Homo sapiens: one gene and its partners. The protein of the gene in region 1 purifies or fractionates together with the protein of each later gene. This does not show direct contact. Each region holds a gene or a part of one and is shown in the gene's direction. Other genes may lie near its edges. The genes, in order: ARHGAP26, JPH1 and RAB11FIP5.

What was found.
Region 2: the proteins of ARHGAP26 (region 1) and JPH1 purify together in Homo sapiens (affinity purification with mass spectrometry; 3 studies listed by BioGRID and IntAct, with this or other methods). This does not show direct contact.
Region 3: the proteins of ARHGAP26 (region 1) and RAB11FIP5 purify together in Homo sapiens (affinity purification with mass spectrometry; 2 studies listed by BioGRID and IntAct, with this or other methods). This does not show direct contact.

What each region holds. Positions count from the first base shown.
Region 1 is NC_000005.10:143,221,351-143,228,459, forward strand, and holds part of ARHGAP26 (rho GTPase-activating protein 26), read left to right. Parts: exon of another isoform or gene 1-73; intron 74-1,007; coding exon 1,008-1,096; 3' UTR 1,097-7,109. UniProt on the Homo sapiens protein: GTPase-activating protein for RHOA and CDC42. Facilitates mitochondrial quality control by promoting Parkin-mediated recruitment of autophagosomes to damaged mitochondria.
Region 2 is NC_000008.11:74,241,534-74,248,642, reverse strand, and holds part of JPH1 (junctophilin-1), read left to right. Parts: intron 1-3,467; coding exon 3,468-4,114; intron 4,115-7,109. UniProt on the Homo sapiens protein: Junctophilins contribute to the formation of junctional membrane complexes (JMCs) which link the plasma membrane with the endoplasmic or sarcoplasmic reticulum in excitable cells.
Region 3 is NC_000002.12:73,102,926-73,110,034, reverse strand, and holds part of RAB11FIP5 (rab11 family-interacting protein 5), read left to right. Parts: intron 1-7,109. UniProt on the Homo sapiens protein: Rab effector involved in protein trafficking from apical recycling endosomes to the apical plasma membrane. Involved in insulin granule exocytosis. May regulate V-ATPase intracellular transport in response to extracellular acidosis.

The sequences.
Region 1 (7,109 bases):
GAAAGAAAACTAAGAAAGGGTGTGAGTGAAACAGAGAAATGGCTATTCAAAGGCTATTCAAAATGACAGCAACCAAAAAAAAAAAAAAAAAAAACCCCAGAAAATTTGCAAGGAAATTAGAAGCAGGGGGTAAGGATTTGAAGGAAAGTAAGATGATGACAAGAAGCTGGATTGATTGATTGAGACAGGGTCTTGCTCTGTCGCCCAGGCTGGAGTGCAGTGGTGCAATCACGGCTCACTGCAGCCTCGACCTGCTGAGCCCAAGCGATCCTCCCGCTTCGGCACTCCCCCTCCTCCAAGTAGCTGGGACTACAGACACGCTCCATCAAACCTAGGTAGTTTTTGTATATTTTGTAGAGACAAGGTTTTGCCATGTTGCCCAGGCTGTTCTTAAACTCCTGGGCTAAAGCAATTCACCTGCCTCAGCCTCCCAAGGTACTGGCATTACAGGCGTGAACCACCAGGCCCAGCCTCTAGAAGCTGGATATCTTTAAAGAGTAGTTCTTAGCAGTCTTCCATGGGCACTGCACTGAGTACATAGTTGATACTGGGCAGGTGGGTGGGTGGATGGATGGAAGGAAGGAAGGAAGGAAGGAAGGATGGAAGGATGGATACATGTATGGATGGACCAGGACAACTGTTGCCCTCTAACAAGAGTAGGAATCTGTCACTTCTTTGTAGTTTAAACCAGGAGCTTCAGAAAATCCGTGAAACCCCTAAAATTGTACACAAAATTTTGTATGTCTGTGTCTGTTTCCTTTTTCATTGTAAAGAAAGTTCAGGACAGCTTTCATCAGAAGGCTTATATTCCACAAAAGGTTCAGAACCTTTGGTTTAAACTTCTAGAATGATGTAACTTAATAAGTGATTGTACTCATTGTCCAAGCTTCCTTCATACACACACACACACACACACACACACACACACACACACCCCACACACACATCTGCCGCCTGCTCTATCTGTAATGCCATCTCTTCTCGCTTTCTCTCCCCTTCCTGTACAGTTCACCCATCTCAGGAGCCTGGCTGGTTGGAGGGGACTCTGAACGGAAAGACTGGCCTCATCCCTGAGAATTACGTGGAGTTCCTCTAACCGTGGGCCCCAGCAGAACTGCTGAGCTTTACATGGTATCCATGACAACTGCTGATTCCAGTGTCGAGGCCATTTCTCTTTGCCACTGAGAAATGCAGCGTGACTGACTCTGTTGCTACCTGTCAACATGAATGTTTCTGTGAGCTCTGGTGTCACTCATCTCCATGATCATCTCAGCCAACATGCATCAGTACTGCAAGAAAAGAAGTCAATCAGCAGAGGAGAGCATTTGATAACTAAGAGGAAGACTTGCAAAGCCGTTTTCTCATGAGTACCCTGAATAGGGGGCACTCATTTTGTTTCAACGGTCCAAACGCCCAACCTTCAGAAAGAGGAAGTCAGATAGAAATAGTCCCTGAGAGCACACTGTGTAGCTAAGCCTGCTGGGGCTGGGTGAAGAAATTGGCGCTGAGATCCAGGCTGGATCCATTGCTTTTGTTTACAATAGGCACTCTCTCTACCCCACCTCTCAGTACTTGAGACTTAAAGTGCTACAGGCAGCTGGATCTGTTTGCATGCAGGATGAAGAGGGTTAAAACACTGTTTATATAAGATCCAATCTCTCACCATCTCTAAAGCAGCCGTTGGCCTGTCATCAGTGAGATACAATCCAGTCTTCTCATGCACGGGAACACACACACCCTGCGTTTCTCCCTCCCAGGCTAGGAACCTCTCTGCCACCAAGGGCTGCCATCCATCGCCTAGTAACCACGGCAACCCAACCTACTCTAAAACCAAACCAAAAAAATAAAATAACACATCCTCTTTGCATGACACATTTTTTTTCTCCCCTTTTTGGTACACTTTTTTTGAATGGTTTTCTAACAACTTGAAGCACAGGATCAAGGAATTAGGGTGGTCTACTTGAGGCAGATGGGATAGTAGCTGGGAACTGTTCCCTTTCTGATTAATTTCAGCAGCATCGGAATATATTTGGAGCACACCCTAGTAACCTCTTGAGATTAAATTACATAGTCTTAATATTTCTGTTCCTCCATGCAACTGATGTTTGTTTTTTAAAGGGTAAGATGCTGCCTCCCAATGGGTGATGCCATCTGACTGGTTTCCCCATGTCCTCCCATTCACCCATCTCTGCTCCCACCCTTGCCTGCCTCTAACCCACCACTGGCCAGCCCCCTTGCCCTACTCTGGGCTGCTGAACACTGGTGCTGTGGTGGTTTTCAAGGTTAATTCCTAGGCTAACCGTATGGCCTATAGTTTAAAAGCACATCTATGTTCACTGCCACTCTGAAAAAGGGAATTATTTCTCAGTCTTTCAAGGCTTGAGACTAATATAGGCCATTGTGATTCAGGAAGAAACCCAAGGTTGGAGGGTGGGATGAGTACCCTCTGAAAAAGGGAATTTGCTGGTGAAAAGAGGCTGGATCTTGTGGAAGACTGTCTTGGATGGGGAAGTACTACCTGGAGATTTCAAATTCACTTGGCCTGCAAACAACAGAGTTATCCGTATCTTCCACATGTGAATGTCATTGCAAGGGTGACTCTAGACAAACTACAAACCGATGGACCGTCAAGCTCCCCAGGAGCCCCTTGGATGGCAGCGTTGCTTCAGAGTGTTTCCTGTTTCTGGAATTCCTTGTTAGGGAACTTTAAAGAAGAAAAGAAAAACTTGAATTGTGTTGAATTACTGTATCTTTTACTTTTTTTTTTTTGAAAAGATAAACTTGTAAATAGAGTGATTTGAAATACTATATGGCAAAGTTTTATATTTGATATTCTTTAAGTTAGTTGCTCACACACTTAGGCTTTGATTGCTGAAGAAGTATGTTTAAGAGGGAGAGAGGGGAGGCAAAGCTGAAGAGAGTCAAGGTCACTGTCCCCGCTTCGGCCTGAAGGAAAGAGAAGACATTTCTATGGCCTTGCTCTCTGCTGTCCTGTTGGTGGGCACGACACATCAGTGGTGTTCAGTCTTTATGTGTTTTTAAGCATCCCTTGGGCTTTGGATTTGGAGATGGGAAGAGCATCTCCAGGCAATGAGTTTTTCAAAGAATGCCTACTTAGTAGTAAGATGAAGCTCAGGATTTAAATAAGTGGGGTCAGGCATTCGAGTTTTTGTCTTTCTTCTCAGGTGTATTTCTTGGTACCCCCAAGATATCAGGCCAGAAAGAGATGAGTCAGTTGCTGTGCTCTTTACTTCTTTTTCTCCACATCTTCTGAGGCTTTAGAAATGTGGACAAGCTAGTTTTCAAATTTTGTGTGCGTCTGTAAGTTCTTAAAGAACCAGCTTCTTAGAATGTTCAGTTCTCAATGTGCTGCTGCTTTCCCTTCTCCTAAACATTTTAAAACTCTTCCCTTTCACCTCCAATTCCCGTGATCCCAAAAGAAGAGGAAGACTCCAGGAGGGGTATAGATTGTGCCGTCATAGCTTTACAGGTGGTTTTAAAGTTAACAGGGGTTTGTCATGGTGATTCACTACTCAGTTTATCAGCTCAAGGATTATACAGCTCTTTTCCGGGAACTCACCCAGGAGCAAGCGAGACACTACCATTGAATCAGGGAATGAGAATTAAGAATGGACAGGACCAAGACAGAACTCAAGAAAGCCACTGGGGAAAACTCGAGAAGAAAGGGAGTATACTAGTAGGTTAGATCTGTGAACCTGAGGACAAGAAGACCTTGGGAAATGGAGGCCTCAGGGGATGTGCATTCACATACTATTACGCTTCTCAAAGAGAGACCAACATCATGCTTTTAACACATTTGATGAGGTTTTTTATTTGTGTTTTTGTTTGTTTTTTGAGATGGAGTCTCACTCTGTGGCCCAGGCTGGAGTGCAGTGGCGCAATCTTGGCTCACTGCAACCTCCACCTCCCAGGTTCAAGTGATTCTCCTGTCTCAGCCTCCCAAGTAGCTGGGACTACAGGCATGAGCCATCACACCCAGCTAGTTTTTTGTATTTTTAGTAAAGATGGGGTTTTGCCATGTTTGCCAGGCTGATCTCGAACTCCTGACCTCAAGTGATCTGCCCACTTCAGACCCCCAAAGTGCTGGGATTCCAGGTGTGAGCCGCTGCGGCCGACCACATTTGATGTTTGAAGTTGTAATCTGTCCCATCATAAACTTACCTGGAGCTCATGTGGAGGAACAGAAGGCCAAGATCCTTGCTTTGGGGGTGCCTCACGAAGCATCCCTGTAGACATTTGGCCCCAGCTTCACTGCTTGGAAGCATGTCCCTCCCTCTTGAGTTGGCTCTGATTTGAAATCGGGAGAAACAGAGCTGCTGCCAATGGGATCTTTTAGGTAACTCCCTCCCTAGCTTCCGTGTGTCTGTGCAGTGCCCATGAGCTGCTGCCAATGGGATCTTTCAGGTACCCCCTCCCCAGCTTCCCTGTGGCTGTGCGGTGCCCTTGACAGATGGCTTCTCTGTTTCCCTTTGCCCAGCCAGGCTCCCCTCCTTCCTATTAGCTACAAAACTGGATAAACTTCAGAATATGAGCCAATGAGTAGGAAGGAACTTGAAGACTAAAGATTTTACTCTCTCCCCTATCCATGCCCCCTACCTCTGACTCTCTCTGTGTGAACAGGAAACTTTAGGGCAGATGAGGAGAATGAATTGGTTATCAGAGTGGAAGACCATGGCCCAGGATCCCTGAGCTTTCCCAGTAGCCTCCAGTTTCCTTTGTAAGACCCAGGGATCACTTAGCCATAGCCTGAATCTTTTAGGGGTATTAAGGTCAGCCTCTCACTCTTCCTTCAGGTTACTAACAAAATTTCGTAGCTAAAGAATGCCATGGCCGGGTGCAGTGGCTCACGCCTATAATCCCAGCACTTTGGGAGGCCGAGGCGGGCGGATCACGAGGTCAGGAGATTGAGACCATCCTGGCTACGACGGTGAAACCCCGTCTCTACTAAAAATACAAAAAATTAGCCGGGTGTGGTGGCGGGCGCCTGTAGTCCCAGCTACTCTGGAGGCTGAGGCAGGAGAATGGCATGAACCCAGGAGGCAGAGATTGCAGTGAGCCAAGATCACGCCCCTGCACTCCAGCCTGGGTGACAGAGCCAGACTCCGTCTCAAAGGAAAAAAAAAAAAAAAAAAAAAGAATGCCATGCCAGGAGAAGACAGCTGGTTTCAAATCCCTGCCCCCAGGCAAGTAAAACCCTGACTTGCTCAAGACAGAAGATCTTTTCTCCTGTTTTTCAAAATAAACATATATAGGGATGGACCCTGTGCATTGTGGCCTGCCTTGGTGTCCTAGAATTGGAGCCAGTCTTTAGCTTAATGTCTGAAGTATTTATACGGCCAATATGTGTTTTCTTATGTCAGACCACACTGTCTTTTTGAATATCAGTTCATTTCCTCTCACCGAGTGCTTTTCGGTGAGAGGCAAAGAGAAAGAATGAACAATCAAGTATTGACAGACTGGCATTAGCAGGACAGAGCCATACTAGTGACAAGGGCATCCCAAGGCACTTGCCCAGAGCTGCAGAGTTGTGTGTGCCATACCTGCGGCTCAAAGGGAAGGCCTTCTATCCCCTGAGTTTCTATCAGCTGAAAATGGCAACTGCTGTCTCAGTAAAAGCTCTGTCTTGACTGCAGAGGCTCCAAAAGCATTCACAGTTGAGGGGGAGAAAGACAGAAAGAAGAAGCCAAAGATAACCTGATCCCTGCCTGTCTGTTGGCACCTGTCATCCTCTGGCTTCTGCTCCCAAAAGCAAGTCTGGATGACTGAGTTTTGTGGACATGGCACTCCCGGAGACAGCAGTGGCCACCATGGCACCCAGAGTTTGCCCAAGTACTGAATGTTTTGTGAGCAACCATGTTCCCCAAGTAGGTAGCCAGCGCTGCAGAAACCAAACAGCCTCTTAGCTACCTGACTTTAAAAGGAATGACCTAGGTGTTCTGCCAAAGGAGTTATCTATCATCTCTGGCAAACTTGACAATCATCACTTACCTCGACAACCCTGCCCCACATCACTTTATAAAGTCAGCAGGATGTCTTCTCACCCACCCTGTGCTGGTGTCTAACAAATTTATCTTGTCATGCTCAAATGTGTTTGGCAGCCACACCGATCGGCTGGGTGCTGAACCGCCTCTCTGTAATTGTAGCATCAAAATGACAACAGCAGCAGAGCAGCGAATCTTGCACAGCCCCACAGCATGCCTGAGACAAGACTCCAACAAGTAATAATTAGCTTTTTTTCTCCTGCCGCCTACAGTACCTGTCTAACTAAAGAGCTTCCCAAAGTGGAGGGAAAGGCCATAGAATCCAGGTGTCATTCAGAGCCAGTCCTTGCTGAAATGTGGTCTTCCAGTGGAAGCACCTGTATTATTGAGAGGAAAAAGTGTTGGATGCAAAGTAACACCAGGACTAGAGAGAAAGAGAAAGGTGAACCATCCTAAGGAGCTTTGGATACTTTTTTAGAAGGATAAATATTATGCTTACTGAGGAGAAAAAAAAAAGCGATCACAGAAAAATTTCACAGCTAATATTTTTACAAAAGTTGTGCCAGACATTACAGAGTGAAAACGTCTCTCAAGGTGGAATGCTTTAGAGAGCAAAGGCTTAGCATAGACCTAGACCCTTGTGTGGGTATGACATGACATGACATGTCCATGTCAAAATTCACTTTAGTCAGAACCAGAGTATTGATAAACAAAATGTCAGTTACCTGGAGCAGTCCTGGAGAGGTTAAGACATTCTATACTGTTCTACGTCAACCATTTCTACAAAGTTGTCCAGACACCTAAAAGCAGCTTTCTTGGTTATCCAGATGCCAGAATCAACCTTGTATCTGACAATGCACATCTGTTGATTCTAAAGTATATTTATGTGTGTGTGTATGTGTGTGTATACAGCACATATTTACATCTATGAAGACATAGACACTTACAGAGACCCACATGAGCTGGCACTTTCTGAGCCTTTACAGCCTTTAAGACTCGGAGGTTGAGAATTAGAGACACAAGAGAGGCTGTGGATGGCCTATTAAAATGATTAAAGATGTAAATTCAGTGCCATTTTAAAACTGTTCATATTTATCAAACAATTAC
Region 2 (7,109 bases), on another chromosome or scaffold:
GACTTGTATGACTGTGCCACGTTGGAACCATTTCCAACAGGATGTAGTCATGTAAGGCTGGTGCTATGGACATATGAACCAAGCAATATAACCAATCAATGCAAGCAGTATCAACATATTGCTAGCATAGTGTCAAATGCCTATAACCCAGTGCGTTAGAATCACTCGGATCATTTGTTAAACATTAATATTTCTAGGCTTCAATTCATACTTATTAAAATATCTGGCCATAACACCTCAGATGCTCTGATAGGCAGCAAGCATAGGCGCCCCTGCTTAGGAGTGCATTTTTTCCCTTACCCAGATATTTTTTGAATGCATAATAAAGCTAGGAATTTTTTAAATGTGAAAGTTGATGCTAAAATGTACTTCCACCATTCTAGTAAATTCTTTGAGCTCATCATTTTTGAGTATCATCAGAAGCCCTGTAGATCAATTTGAGTGAGTATACCTAAACTCATCTTAGCAGAGTGGGCATGAGTAATCATGTAAGACATGCCTTTCTTACTGCATTTAGGACAAGAAAACTGTGTCCAAAGAGGTGACACATCAGATTTCTAAAGGTTAAAGAAGTGATTAGACCAGTATTTGAGAGTTGATAAATATCATAAGAAATACTTTCAATGGAATCCAAAATTTAGCTTCATAAGTTCATTAATACAAATTATTCCAACGGCCAAATCAGTCTCACCTTGGCCTATCCACCTATACTGATGGTGCTGAAGGTCACTAGGATACATCCTAATGTTTTTAATGTATATATTGATAAGTTATAGTTGTATATATTTATGAAGTACAAAGTGATGTTACAATTTCTTAATACAATATGGAATGATTAAATCAAGCTAATTAACCTATTTATCACCTCAAAAAAATGACATTTTTTTGTGACGAGGGCATCACAAAGATTTAAATCCTAAATTTGTAAGCTACAATCTCATGGTCTTACATCTTCTAAGTGAAATGCATGGGCTTTGTGACAGCTTCATTTCTCAGGGCGCAGTGACTCTTTACCTTTTCCCTCCAACTTTGAGAATGCATAACGAAAAATGTTTGCCAGAGTCTATTTTTTCACTCTTTTCTGTATATTTAAGTTAAACATTAGCTTTTAATGTGCCTTAATCTTAGTAGATATTGGCAATTTTTCTATGCAAAAATAACTTGCATTTATCTTTAGATCAAAGATGTTAAAAGCACTTTGTATTTTATGTAATTGTTTCAGCATTAAGTGGCTTAAATTAAAAGTCCGTTGGCTCCAAGGCCCTTGACTATTTTAATTATCTTTGCAAAGTACATCCACTACCATACCTAGATGGGTATTTTAGTAATGCTATGAAGTTGAATATCAGTAAAGCACAAATAAAACCAACCATAGTGAAATTTTGGGTAGAGAAGTGAGGGAAAAGTATGTAAACATCACACTGCATCAAGATGTATTAGAGAATATACTTTATCACAGAAGAAGAGGGGTTTTGTTAAAATATGCCTGCAGGTGAATCACAAGGGGCTTCTCCATGACAGACTAGTATCAATGACCTGATGAGTTTTAAAGAGCAGGGACAGTTCAGCTGATGAAAGATAACTTTTTTGTGCTCATGCTGCCCTTTTTCCCCTTAATGCTATGTCCAGACACACAGCACCAAGAAAGAATTCAGAAACAGAAGGACATCGCCTTTTGAATGCTTGCAGTTGCTGCTTTTTGTCATTCAAAATAACTTTCACTGGCCTAAGAATTAACATTGCCATTTTTGATGGAGGAATTAAAAGAAAATTGTCAGTTATGTAAAGGGGGAGCTTACCCAGTTTAGAAAGGAAGTCTCAATTGTCCATGTGCGATCTTGACAAATTTGGGAAACTTGAATCCCCAGGAGTGGATGTATCTTCTAGAAGGTGGAAACTGTGATAATACTATTATGTTTTGTGCCCTGAGTATAACTTGCGATGGTGGGTGCTCAGGAATTCTTGTCTCTGGCTTTAAAATATTATGTGTTGCATTATGTTTTTTTCTGAAAAGATAATGGGAGCTATGTGATTTTTTTTTCAGTTGCTATAGCTGTTTCCCTTTCAGTAAAATGGGGATAATAACACCTACTCCCTAAGATTTTGGTGAGGCTTTAAATTTTGGAAAATTCCTTGTATAATTAAATAGCAGCCTCATTACAATAACTTATTACTCAGACCACCATGGGAAGAGCAATTACAAGTGTAAGTGTGCAGTATGTAGTTTCACAATTAAGGATAATTGCTGTTCAGTCCCTCTGTAAATCTTTTAGTGAGTTAGTGAGTTTGTCTGGGGTGAAGGGTTGGGGGTAGAAGGCAGGAAGGAAAATGAACAGATGCAGTGTTGTGGAATTGACAAGAGCCTGTCAACTCTCTATAAGCATGTCGGTGGGGGCAGTGTCTTCCATGTATACTCAAGAGACATTGTCAGCTTCTGCCCATTTGTGAGGAAGAGGGTCAGTTGCACTGCATGTGACCTTGACCTCACCTTATGAGGCGAAAAGTGGCAGATGGGTGGAGTGGTAGCCAAAGTACGCACATGACTTGCTGAGAGCTGAAGGCCCTAGAAGTCTAAGGTCTCTGTCTCAGCCCAGAGATGCCCCTTTCCAGACCACAGCCTCCTCGAGTTCCCAGGGCCTGGACATTTTGTGGCACACACTCTGTTTCTTTATAGCTCACTCCCTGTAAAATAACAATGCAGCAGGGCCACTTTTTTTTTTTTTTTTTCATTTTTTCCTCCTCTGTCAGAAGAATAGCCTCTTTTTTAATGAAAATTTGTTCCCATTTATAAAAAAGTAACAAGATTTTTATAAACAATCCTGAGGTATATAAAAAAGGAAAAAAAAAATCTTGAAGCTACAGAACCAGAGACAACTGCCTTGTCTTGACTTTGATACCTGCAAAACACTGCTTGTGCAAATCCGTGTTTTCCATAGCTGTGAATGGACTACATGGAAGTGACTTTGTGTCGTGCAACCTAAGCCTCAGAAATTGTTTCAAACTAGGAAGTTTTAGTGCATGTTTGATGACAGATCATTAAAAATATGTTATCTACAGGTTCTCCTCTTACAGTATACTTTATTAAATTTTCAGATGCTTACAGTAGTCAGCTTACTTCCTTGTACAAGTATACACTTTCTGTGTCTTAGTTACACCACATAATTTGAACAAGCAGATTAATTATGATATTGCGACCAATGTTCCATCAACATGAATTTTGCCTCTGTATTCTGCAAGTAGGCAGAAAGAATGCAATTATCAGGGAAGCCAGAACTGTTTAGATTCTGTATTATCTTAAAAGCAGCCTTTCCATAATAAATAAACTTTTCCCCAGAGAATGAAATATGTGTTTAGTCAAAGCCTTATGAATATATTATTTTTAAAAGAGAAAAGGTTAATCTGATTTAGCAAAATATATGTATATATACCTCCTTTCTTTTTTTCTTTTTTCTTTTTTTTTTGGCCAGGCCCTGATTACGTCAAACAGAGATTTCAGGAAGGTGTAGATGCTAAAGAAAATCCAGAAGAAAAGGTACCAGAAAAGCCACCTACACCAAAGGAGTCTCCTCATTTTTATCGCAAAGGCACGACACCCCCAAGATCTCCTGAGGCAAGTCCCAAACACAGCCACTCTCCTGCTTCCTCCCCAAAGCCCCTGAAGAAGCAAAACCCCAGCTCAGGGGCGAGACTCAACCAAGACAAAAGGAGTGTGGCTGATGAGCAGGTGACGGCCATTGTCAATAAGCCCTTGATGTCAAAGGCTCCCACGAAGGAGGCAGGAGCGGTTGTGCCCCAGTCCAAGTACTCTGGCCGCCACCACATCCCCAACCCCAGTAACGGGGAGCTGCATTCTCAGTATCACGGCTACTACGTGAAGCTGAACGCCCCCCAGCACCCTCCAGTAGACGTGGAGGACGGCGATGGATCCAGCCAGTCTTCCTCAGCACTGGTGCACAAGCCATCCGCTAACAAGTGGAGTCCCTCCAAATCTGTGACAAAACCAGTTGCCAAAGAAAGCAAAGCTGAGCCAAAAGCTAAGAAGTCTGAACTTGCTATACCAAAGAATCCAGCAAGCAACGATTCATGCCCTGCTTTGGAAAAAGAAGCCAATTCAGTAAGTACTGCAAGTAGCGTTTTCTCTTTCTTTCTTCCCTTTGTTTCTTTCAGCGAGCTGTGTGGGGTGACTGTGCATCTTGATCACAGCCAGGCTAACCAAGGTTCTAGAAGCACAGGGTTGTTTAGAGCAGCACATAACACATTGGTAGCTTGAGACAGCAAAGAGCTCTCTGGGCAGAAATTCCCCCCACCACCCCTATGTTCACCCAGCCCCACTTTAGATGTAATTCAGGTAGGTAAGACCTGACCAGCTTAGCACAGCATCTTAGCACATTTTAGCAAGGCTTTAACAGCGTGTCTTGGTGAGCTTCCTGGTAGCTTGCTCTCTGATTGCTGGAAAGGAATCATGACCCCTGCCAAGGGCCAGCCGCTCTCAGAGCTCTAGGAAAAGGGCACCAACAAGTTCTTAGTTCTCCTGTTTTCACCACAGCGGTCAGCATCTTTACACAAAAGAACGTCTCCTCTAGCCGTTGTGAATTCTTCTCATACATACGTAGTTTGGACTTTAATTAGCCAGGCTTTGCAGCTAGAACATTTTTCTTTCCCAAAAGAGAACTGAAAATTTCCAACAGTTCAAGAGAATTTCTTTGGTCTTCTGTCTTTTCAAAGTGTGAGAACTCTTACAATTTCAGTTTTCTGGTAGATGCAGGTTATTAGTATCAATTAGTCTTAAGCATTTAAGATATTTATTTATTATTCAGCCAGAAAAGCTCTGTGTTATTGAAAAATCTTTATACCTTCTTTAAAAGGAGATTTTTTGAATAATGTATGGAATTAGTGTTTTATCAAATGCTATAGTATTTATAAAATCTGAAGCTAATTATTGATTAAAAAATGACCTCTTGACCTGATCACATCCCTTTAGAACAGAGGTGTTGAAAGTTACACACCTAGTATTCACTAGAAATTATAGAGACATATTTGCATAATGGTGTGGATTAATATCTTGGCCAACAAGAATATAGTACAGCCATCAGTTTCTTATTTTTGTCTGTTTGATTTACTCACAGGATTAAACAATTAAAATTCCTCTGTTAACTTATGCTTAAAATTTCTTGTGTGTTTATTTTGCTAATATCTATAAAACACTGGTTCTCTTCTTTTTTCAAATTTTCAACTTTTTAATTAGCTAAACATAAATTATTCAGATTAACTGGACCAACTTCCTAGGAGTCCACCTGCATGGAGAAAAATTGTTTTCAAAACAGACTAACTTTAAGATTCTGACTCTTCAGTAAGCATTCATTTTAAAGATTTTAAACCTTAATATGACAGTATCTTGACATTACAACTATAATAATCACTATTGAATTTGTTAAATGTAATAGCTTACTTCTCATTTGACTTTCAGCATGTTTATCCCCAGGTTAATAAGGCCTCGCATATATCAGTGTTAGTTTGCCTGATTTACACAGGGAAAAATTCAAACAATGCAAGGCCATACCTTTTATACCTTTGGGTACCCATTTGTGGGCTTTAGTTGACTTCTAGACTTCTACAAGGGGAAGTGTATGCCCCAGCGTCCTATACATTAGGCTGTGATAGGGGGAAAAAAAAGTTGAATTACCCAGCTCTTAGCTGAAAGAGTCTCTCTGTAAAACAGTAGTATACGTATGTTTGGTAAATTCACAGCCTCCTCATTTAGAAAAAACATCTGTTTTACTTATTTGCGGAATTCTCAGATTCTTGGAGTTAGACAAGCATCCTCCATCTCAGTAGTTGGTCCTTAGGGTACCCCTCTACACCCCAAGGGGGAAGGGAAGCCCCAGCAGCTCCGCAGCTACCCTGAGCTTTAGACTGCCTCTGCAAAATTCAAGACCGACTTGACACCTTCACGCGAAGATTCTAATAATTAACATTGTCTTCCCAATAGTAACAGAACGCTGCCGTCCCCACTCCTCAGAGTTAGGAAGTGGCACAGTCATCATAAATGTTGTCAGTGGATGACCTTTAAGATAATGGAGTACTACATAGTTTTGAGAGAAAGACACTGTATAAGTTAGACATTCGTGAATAATTTTAAAATTCACAGAATTGAACTCTGTTGCTGAACTTCCTCGGTTCACATCCCAGCTCTGTTGCTTACCAGCTGTGTGACCCTGGACAGTTTCCTAACTGCTCTGTGCCTTGGTTTCCTCATCTGTACCTATCACAGGGTTGTTGTGAAGATTAAATGAGTCAATACTTTAAAAGTTCTTAGCATAGTGCCTAGCGCAGAATAAATGCTCAAAAAACCTTGGCTATTATGATGTTTGTTTCAACACAATGCTAACTGAAGCATAAGCAGTTCAGAAATATTCAAGTAGATCTGATCCATCCTCAGGATCACCCTGGCTATTGATCTCCTAGAAATACAGAAAATCTCCTGGGATGGAGACTAACACAGGAAATTAGTTAACTCGAGTATGAGAGGTAGGAGAAGGGAGGCTGTGGCATTGATTACTTTCTTGAGGAAGATTTTCCTCAAGAAACTTTTGTGACCCCTGTGGGCAATGGTTGCGTATGGACTCATGTCCTAGGGGCACGCATTCAATGTGATCCCGAAATTTTTGTAGAGTTTTGCAACATGACAACTCTGGTAGGGTCAGAAGAGGCATCTTTAGCGTCTTACCATCAAGTAGACAAGAGGGGAATTTTCCAATTAGGTATCTCAGCCCATTCTGAAAAATGACTACACTTTTTTCTCAGCCATTCCTGTGATTTGCATCCAAGTTTGTTTTGAGGTTCATCTAATCTTTCTTTTGAATTTGTGTAAAATTTAAAGCGTCCCCATCAAATTGGGTTTGAACCTCACCCCCGAAAGAGGTAAATATATATAATTAAACTTTGCTGTTAATACTTAATTAAACTTTGTTCTTCTCTTGTGTTTCTAGCTAGAGAAGCTTTAGATTTCACATAAACCATAGTAACTCTTCTAGCAGAAAATTCCTTACAGTTTTAAATATGAGTGACAATCTCTTAAAGGAAAAAAAGATAATTTTTTGAGTTAGGAT
Region 3 (7,109 bases), on another chromosome or scaffold:
CTGTGGCAAGTCATATAAACTCTTGGTGCCTCAGTTTTCACGTCTGTAAAATGGAGATAATTTATACCTTCATATGGTTGATGTGAGGGATGAAATGAAAATGCAGCTTAAGCACCTAGTACAGTCCCTGTACATGGTAGGTGGTCAGTGCAGAGCAGTGATGGTGAAGGGAGATTTTAGTAACAATGTCTGGAAGAGCTTCTTATGGGATGGGGGAGACAGTCTAGAACTTAGAGCCTAGGAAAGCCTTAGGACCATGGGTGACGGAGTACACAGAAGAGTACGAGAGTTCCCAACAAAATGAGCTGGCCCTTTGCAGCTCTCTGTATTCTATTTGCTGCAAGAGGCCCAAGAAATAGGGCTGGGCTTGAGAGGCCTCTGCAGTCCTGAAACCAGGCTCAGATAAGCCCGCAGCTCTGCAGCTCTCCTCCCTGGCAGCCCTGCCTGGAGCTGCCCCTGCCCTGTTGGGAAGGAAGGATGGCCCAGGGCTTAAAAACCTGGAGACTGGGATTTCACTCCCCGTTCTGTGACTTACCAGCAGACAGGTTACTTATCCCACTTCCTCACTTTGAAAAAGGTCATGATAATAATCATAGAGTTGTACAGATTAGATAAGACACCATCTGTAAAAGCCTTAATGTAGTTCTGGATACATAGAAGCTCTCAAAATATTAGCGTGGTGGTGACTCTGGGGCCCCATTTTGTGTGATGGTGGTGGCTGGGGTTGTAGGTGCTTCAGCAGCCTCCGAAGGTCTTGTGTGAGTGGGGCAGTCTTTGAAATGAGGAATTTCACCAGAGGCTTCCAAATAATTGAAGAGGATATTCTCAAAACAAAATGTAATGGTAGTACACAAGGAAACTAATGATCTCCCCACCCTCAGTAGAACTGTCCATGGATCGTCATGTTCCTGTTGGTCTGGAAATCCTGGATGCTTCTCTGCGATTTATTTTCTGGTTTTTATCTTCAACATCCTTTTTTTTTTCTTTTTTGAGACAGTGTCTCACTCTGTTGCCCAAGTTGGAGTGCAGTGGCAGAATCTGGGCTCACTTGCAATCTCTCCCTCCCAGGTTCAAGCGATTCTCCTGCCTCAGTCCCCTGAGTAGCTGGGATTACAGGCATGTGCCACCACACCCAGCTAATTTTTGTATTTTTAGTAGAGACTGGGTTTTGCCATGTTGGCCAGGCTGTTCTCAAACTCCTGACCTCAGGTGATCCACCTGTCTTGGCCTCCCAAAGTGCTGGGATTACAGGCATGAGCCACCACGCCTGGCCCAACGTCCTTCTTAGCACTCCCCAGTGGGTGTCCTGTGTTTGCCTCCCTAACTCCCAAGACAGGGATGGGATGTGGTGGTTAGTTAGTTTTCCTTGTTCCCTGTGGGGTCAGATGGGTCATTTGGACCTTTTTGGTCTTTATGCGATTGGTGTGGATCACACCCCCAGGGAATGGACCTGGATATATCAGAAGAGGGAAGGAAGGAAGCAGCAGCAAAGGTTTTGGAGTAAGAAGACAGGGCATCTGCCACAAGGCCATTTTGGTTGGGGAGACCTGGTCTTTGCCCCCTGGAATGCTGGTCTTTGTGTGTTTTAGGAGAGGAGGAGAGAGCACAACTGTGTTATATGGAGCCCCTGTCCACCTTCTCCCTCATCCTGATAAGGGTGAAATGGTCCCTGCGGTAAGGCCTGGAGTGTGGCAGACAGGATCGTCATCCTGGGCCTGTTGGATCAATGGTTAGAAGCTGGCCTCTTGGGAAAGCAAAGGCTGTGGGTTCAGCTTGGGTTGGGATCAGTTTGTCTTTTTTCATCACAAAGACTAAAACTGTTGTGACCATGAATTGTGGCCTGCAAGAGGCTCCGTTCAGCCCCTGCTTAGACTGTGCCACTTGGCAAGGGAGCTCGGAGAGCTGAGGCTGTGAAAGATGTAGGTCTGAGATGAGAGCCTTCTGCCTGGCTGGTCATGGTGTTCTGAGACCTCCTTAGGTGGGTGGGTTTGGGGGCACTGGGAGGCACCTGAGGGGACATGCATCCCATTAGCCTAAGGCTGGGATGGTCTTTGAGGGCTTCCATCTATCCCGTAGCCCACAGACAGCCTGGGCAGACAGTTGGTGGGCAGATGGTGCGTGACCCCACAGCCTTCTCTCTGTTGGCTTCTGGGTGTGACTCTGCCCCTCGGGAAACAGCTGTGGTCACTTGAGCCCCTGGCCTTGGCTCCTGCTCGGCCCCAGAGCTGGCATGGGAGGCCTGTGGCACTGCTGGGGAGGTCTACTCTGGCTGCAGAGGAAGGGTGTGGCTGCACTCAGAAGCCAGTCGTTGGTATGCCGAGGCTCCACGGCCCTTAGTTATGGGGTGGTTTTTATTTGGGGTTGCTTGAGCAGCAGCGTCTTGGGGTGTGGGGCGGGGTAGGAAGTGTGACTCCTCAGTCAGGCTGGGCAGCTCCTCCTCTCTGGCCTGGCAGCTTCCCCTGCCCTCCCCATCTGCCCCTGGCCCTGAGCCCTGGCTGGGACCAGGGAGTTTCAAGGGGCCTGTGGTCAGCCCCATCTCTGCCCCACCTGTCTCTCCTTGTAGGCAGCTGGCTGCAAGGCACAGCTCAGCAGAGCCACATCCCGGTGACCTTGAGGGCTGTCCTTCTCTGCTGGGAGCTGCCCGCCCCACTTGTCACTGCTGCCACCTCAGTGCTGTGACGCTCTTGTCTAAACCACTGGCCTGGCCTTGTCCAGATGTTCTCCTGCCCTTCTCACCCTACGCAGGGACAGATGATGAATACAAGAACAGAAGCTGTTGTGGCTCTGCTCCAGGGGAAGCAGTCCTCTTTTTCTTTCCTTTGCAAAATAGTGTAGCCATGAAGCAGTTTTGTTCTTCCCCACAGCCAAGTAATAAAAATGAGTCCACATGTGAGTCTGCTGTGCACCTGGCAGTCCCTTCAGGGAAGAGTCTGATCACAGTGCCCTTACTGAGCTGGCCTGAGGTTATTTCTACCTTGGGAACAATGGTGGCCAGAGAGGAGAGGGACTTGGCTGGCCACATGAGGCCTCTGTATGGAGCTGGGCCCCGGCCTCTCAGGAGCAGTAAGTGGGGCCTCCCAAAACGGGGCTCCCAGGGGCAGCCAGCACCTCCGAGAAGCTGCAGGGTGGGGAGGGGGTATCACAGGCCACTGTGACCTTTGGTTCACCTGGTAGTGGAGAAGGGAGCACAGCCCTTACTCATGGGACTCCAGCATGGGAGCTGGAAGAGAGCTCAGACAAGGAAACTGGGGTTTGCAGAGGGAGAGCTGCACACTCTCACTACCCAGCACTTAGTGGAGGGTGTGCTCTGTGTGGTTTCCATTAGACCCGGGCAGCCCACAGAGCTGTAGGATTTGGGGTAAAGAAGAGGTGGCATTTGGAGCCCTGTGTGCACCCCGGAGTTTCTGTGGAAGTGCCTGCCAGGTTTTAGTGAGATGGGGACATTGGGCTTCTCTGCTGACCTGGAAGGGTAGTCCAATCCAAAGGCAGTTCTAGAGGCCTGAAAGGCCAAGAGTGGGCCACTGGTGGGGGAGAGATTCCAAAGGGGGGGAAGCCTGGATATCTCCCTACATTTGGAGGAAGCCCTATAGCCAAGTGCTGTGTTTTGGGGCCTAGACAGGGAGCCCTGGAGATGTTCGGAGCAGACAGAGCCACTGGCGCTGGCTGTGGTCTCCTCCTCTGTGAGGAGGGGACATACACCAGAGACCTGTCGGCCATCATGGAACCCATCTGCCTCCCCAGCCTTCTCTGAATCCCCACATCTGGAGCATGTGGCACCTGTTTTGGTGCATTATTTTCATTGCCTCGTTGGTCTAGTGCATTGCTGATGAAGGCCTATCTGGGTGCTGGCACTGTCTTAAGGTCTGGACTTCCATTTGTCCACAGCAAGCCCTTGAGGTGTAGGTGCTGTTTAACAGCTGAGGAAACCTTGGCACGGAGAGGTAAAGTGACTTTGCTTTTTCTTTCTTTTTTTTGAGGGGGTGGGGTCAGGGTCTGGCTCCATCACTGAGGCTGGCATGCAGTGGTGCCATCATAGCTCACTGCAGCCATGAACTCTCAAGTGATCCTCTTGCCTCAGCTTCCCAAAGTGCTGAGATTATAGGCATGAGTCACTGGACTTGACCACAGCACATGGCACAAAGTCAGGATGTGAACCCAGGCAGTCTGGCTTCCCAGTCTATGCTCTTGGCCACCACACCACACTGCCCACCTCAGTCTTCCCCCATGTCTTCCATGACCCTGCTCTGCACAGGGCCAGGTGCTCAGCTGCTGCCTGCCAAGGCTTCCTCTCTTCTCCTTGACATGGATCTCGGGGGTTAATCTGGTGCTCTGTAGGCATGACCTGCTTCTCCTGGGTGAGTCCTTGGTTTATTGGGATAAGCACATTTGGTCTGCAGCTCTAGCCTTATGTCTGTCCCAGAGGCTGGGGGATGTTGTCTCATACTTTGGGAGGGAGTCACTGCCACCAGATACCTCTCGGGAGTGGAGTGAGGGCTGGGTGTGGTGGCTCATGCCTGTAATCCCAGCACTTTGGGAGGCCGCGTCAGGAGGATCACTGGAGGCCAAGAGTTCAAGAGCAACCTAGGCAACATAGCAAGACTCCATTTCTACAAAAATACAAAAAATTAGCTGGGCATGGTGGTGCACACCAGTAGTCCCAGCTACTCAGGAGGCTGAGGTGGGAGGATCACTTGAGCCCGGGAGTTCAAGGCTGCGATTAGCAATGATTGCCCCACTGCACTCCAGCCTGGGTGACAGAGCAAGATCCTGTCTCAAAAAATAAAAATAAAAAAAGGAGTGGAGTGAGGCCTGAGAAGGTCAGCCTCACTTTCCACCAGGGCACTTTCCACCCTGGGGAGATTTGCTCCTTTCAAGCAGGGCTTGGGGGCATCAGCACATACCAGACTCCGTAATCCTTCCCAAGACGTCACATGCTGGTTTTACTGTGACAGAACACTCCAAGCCATCCTGTTCTTCCTCCTGCAGCAATACAGTCATTTGCTATTTTTTCCCTTCTGTTTCACAACATCCAGGAAGCAATTACTGGACAACCATTGTAACCACTGTGCCTAGGTCAGTGCTGTGGGGGAAACCAGGGAAATAAAGTGGATAGCCCTTTCTCCAGAAGGGCTAAAATATGTTTGAGATAAGCCTAACGCAGCAAGGACAATTCCTCTACAAAGCAGCATATAAAAAGCGTGAGAGAATGAGGGGGTCAGGAGAAGAGGGAGCTCACCAGTTGGAGTGATCAGGGTGGGCTTCTTGGGAGAGGTGAGGCCTTGAATAACAGGTGAGACCTGATTAGAGGCAGGGTGAGTTGGAGGCAGGGAAACTGTGAGTGTGGTGGGACTGGGCCAGGAGAGGGAGTGAGGGGAGCCAAGCTTAGTTCCCTGTGTGCCACTCTCAGCAAAACAGCAGGACTTTCTTTACTTCCTATTTAGTTTTGTTTTGTTTTGTTTTGTTTTTTGAGACAGAGTCTTGCTGTGTTGCCCAGGCTGGAGTGCAATGGTGTGATCTTGGCTCACTACAGCCTCCGCCTCCCAGGTTCAAGTGATTCTCCTGCCTCAGCCTACCGAGCAGCTGGGACTACAGGTGCGTGCCACCACGCCCAGCTAATTTTTGTATTTTTAGTAGAGACCATGTTGGCCAGGCTGGTCTCGAACTCCTGACCTCAAGTGATCTGCCTGCCTCAGCCTCCCAAAGTGCTGGGATTACAGGTGTGAGCCACCACACCTGGCCCCTATTTACTTTTGAGTAGTTCACCTGGTCCAAATTCTAAAGGTACAGAAGGGCACATAATGAAAAAAATTTCCCTTGACCCACCTTAAGTCACCTAGCTCCTCTCTTCAGAGACATCCAACATTACCAGTTCTTGTGTAACCTTCCAAAGGTGTTTTCTGCATTTAAAGGCAAATGCGTTGTGTTTTTTCTTCCCTCCCTCCTTGTTCCCAAATGCAACGTTCTCACCACACAGTTCTGTACTTCCCATGAGCCTGGCAGGGAAGTTATTGTTTGTTTCCCCCTGTTGTGGGGTCTGAACTGAGACCTTGGCAGAGGGGACCATCGCCACTTGGTTTTGTCTTCCTCAACCTGAGTCTCCTGGTCAGGGTGAATATGGGGTTAGGAGCACACTGGGGAGGGGGATGGGTTAAGTGGAATTTCTTTATTTTTCCACCTGCCAGAGATCCCCTGAGAGAGGTCATCTTGCGGGTTCTCTCCTTCCTCCTGGGCAGGGTTGTTGCTTTTTGGTCCTGGGCCACCTCACTTATATGGGGCTGATGATGGCCTGTAAAAGGCCTTTGATAGACAATAAACCCACATCTTTCTGTGTGGTTTGGCCTACTTTTAAGGGTGCCTTCCCAGTATCACCTCATTTCATTCTTCCCTGAGGGCAGACAGGGGGATCACCATTTTTGCGAATATGGAGACTGGGGTCTCAGGAGGTGGAATGACCTGTCCAAGGTCACACAACTCTTTAGTGGCAGCCAGATTTCTGATGTCTAAGCCTGATGCTTTTCTCCCTACACTGTGCTATCAACCCTACATCTTTTCTGTTGCTCTCTGTGGTTTGACTTGTCTCCAGCCATTTTTGCAGCTTTTCCTTGTGCTGGGTGAGCTGACAGTGACAGACCTTTGGAGCCTACAGCATTAGGATGAGGATTAAAAGTGCTTGTGCCCAGGAGGGAGGGAGGCTGGACCTGGCTGGGGTCTGAGGAGGGATGAGTGAGCTGTCCCCACAGAGGCAGGGGGAACTCATGAATGAGGACCTGGGCTCCCTCCAAAGGTTGCTGGTGCCAGGCATGGTGCCAGAGGAGGTGATAAGAATCATCTTCTGGCCTGATAAGAGGCTGTATCCTGTCCTGCAATTATGTCTGGCTTGCAGTTTTACTGTAGATACCAAATCAAAAGATGGGGTAGGCGGTGGATGCGGGGAGACAGCAGGGGTTGGCTTGAGGCCCACACAGCTCCTGTGTGCCAGTGTGTGAGGCAGGCTGCTGTGGTGGGCACTTGGAGAGGAGAGGAGGCATCAGGGTGGAGGAGGCTCTAGGGAAAAGGGTTTTCCAACTGTGTCACCATACTCTGAATATAATAGTTCTAGTTTCACTTTA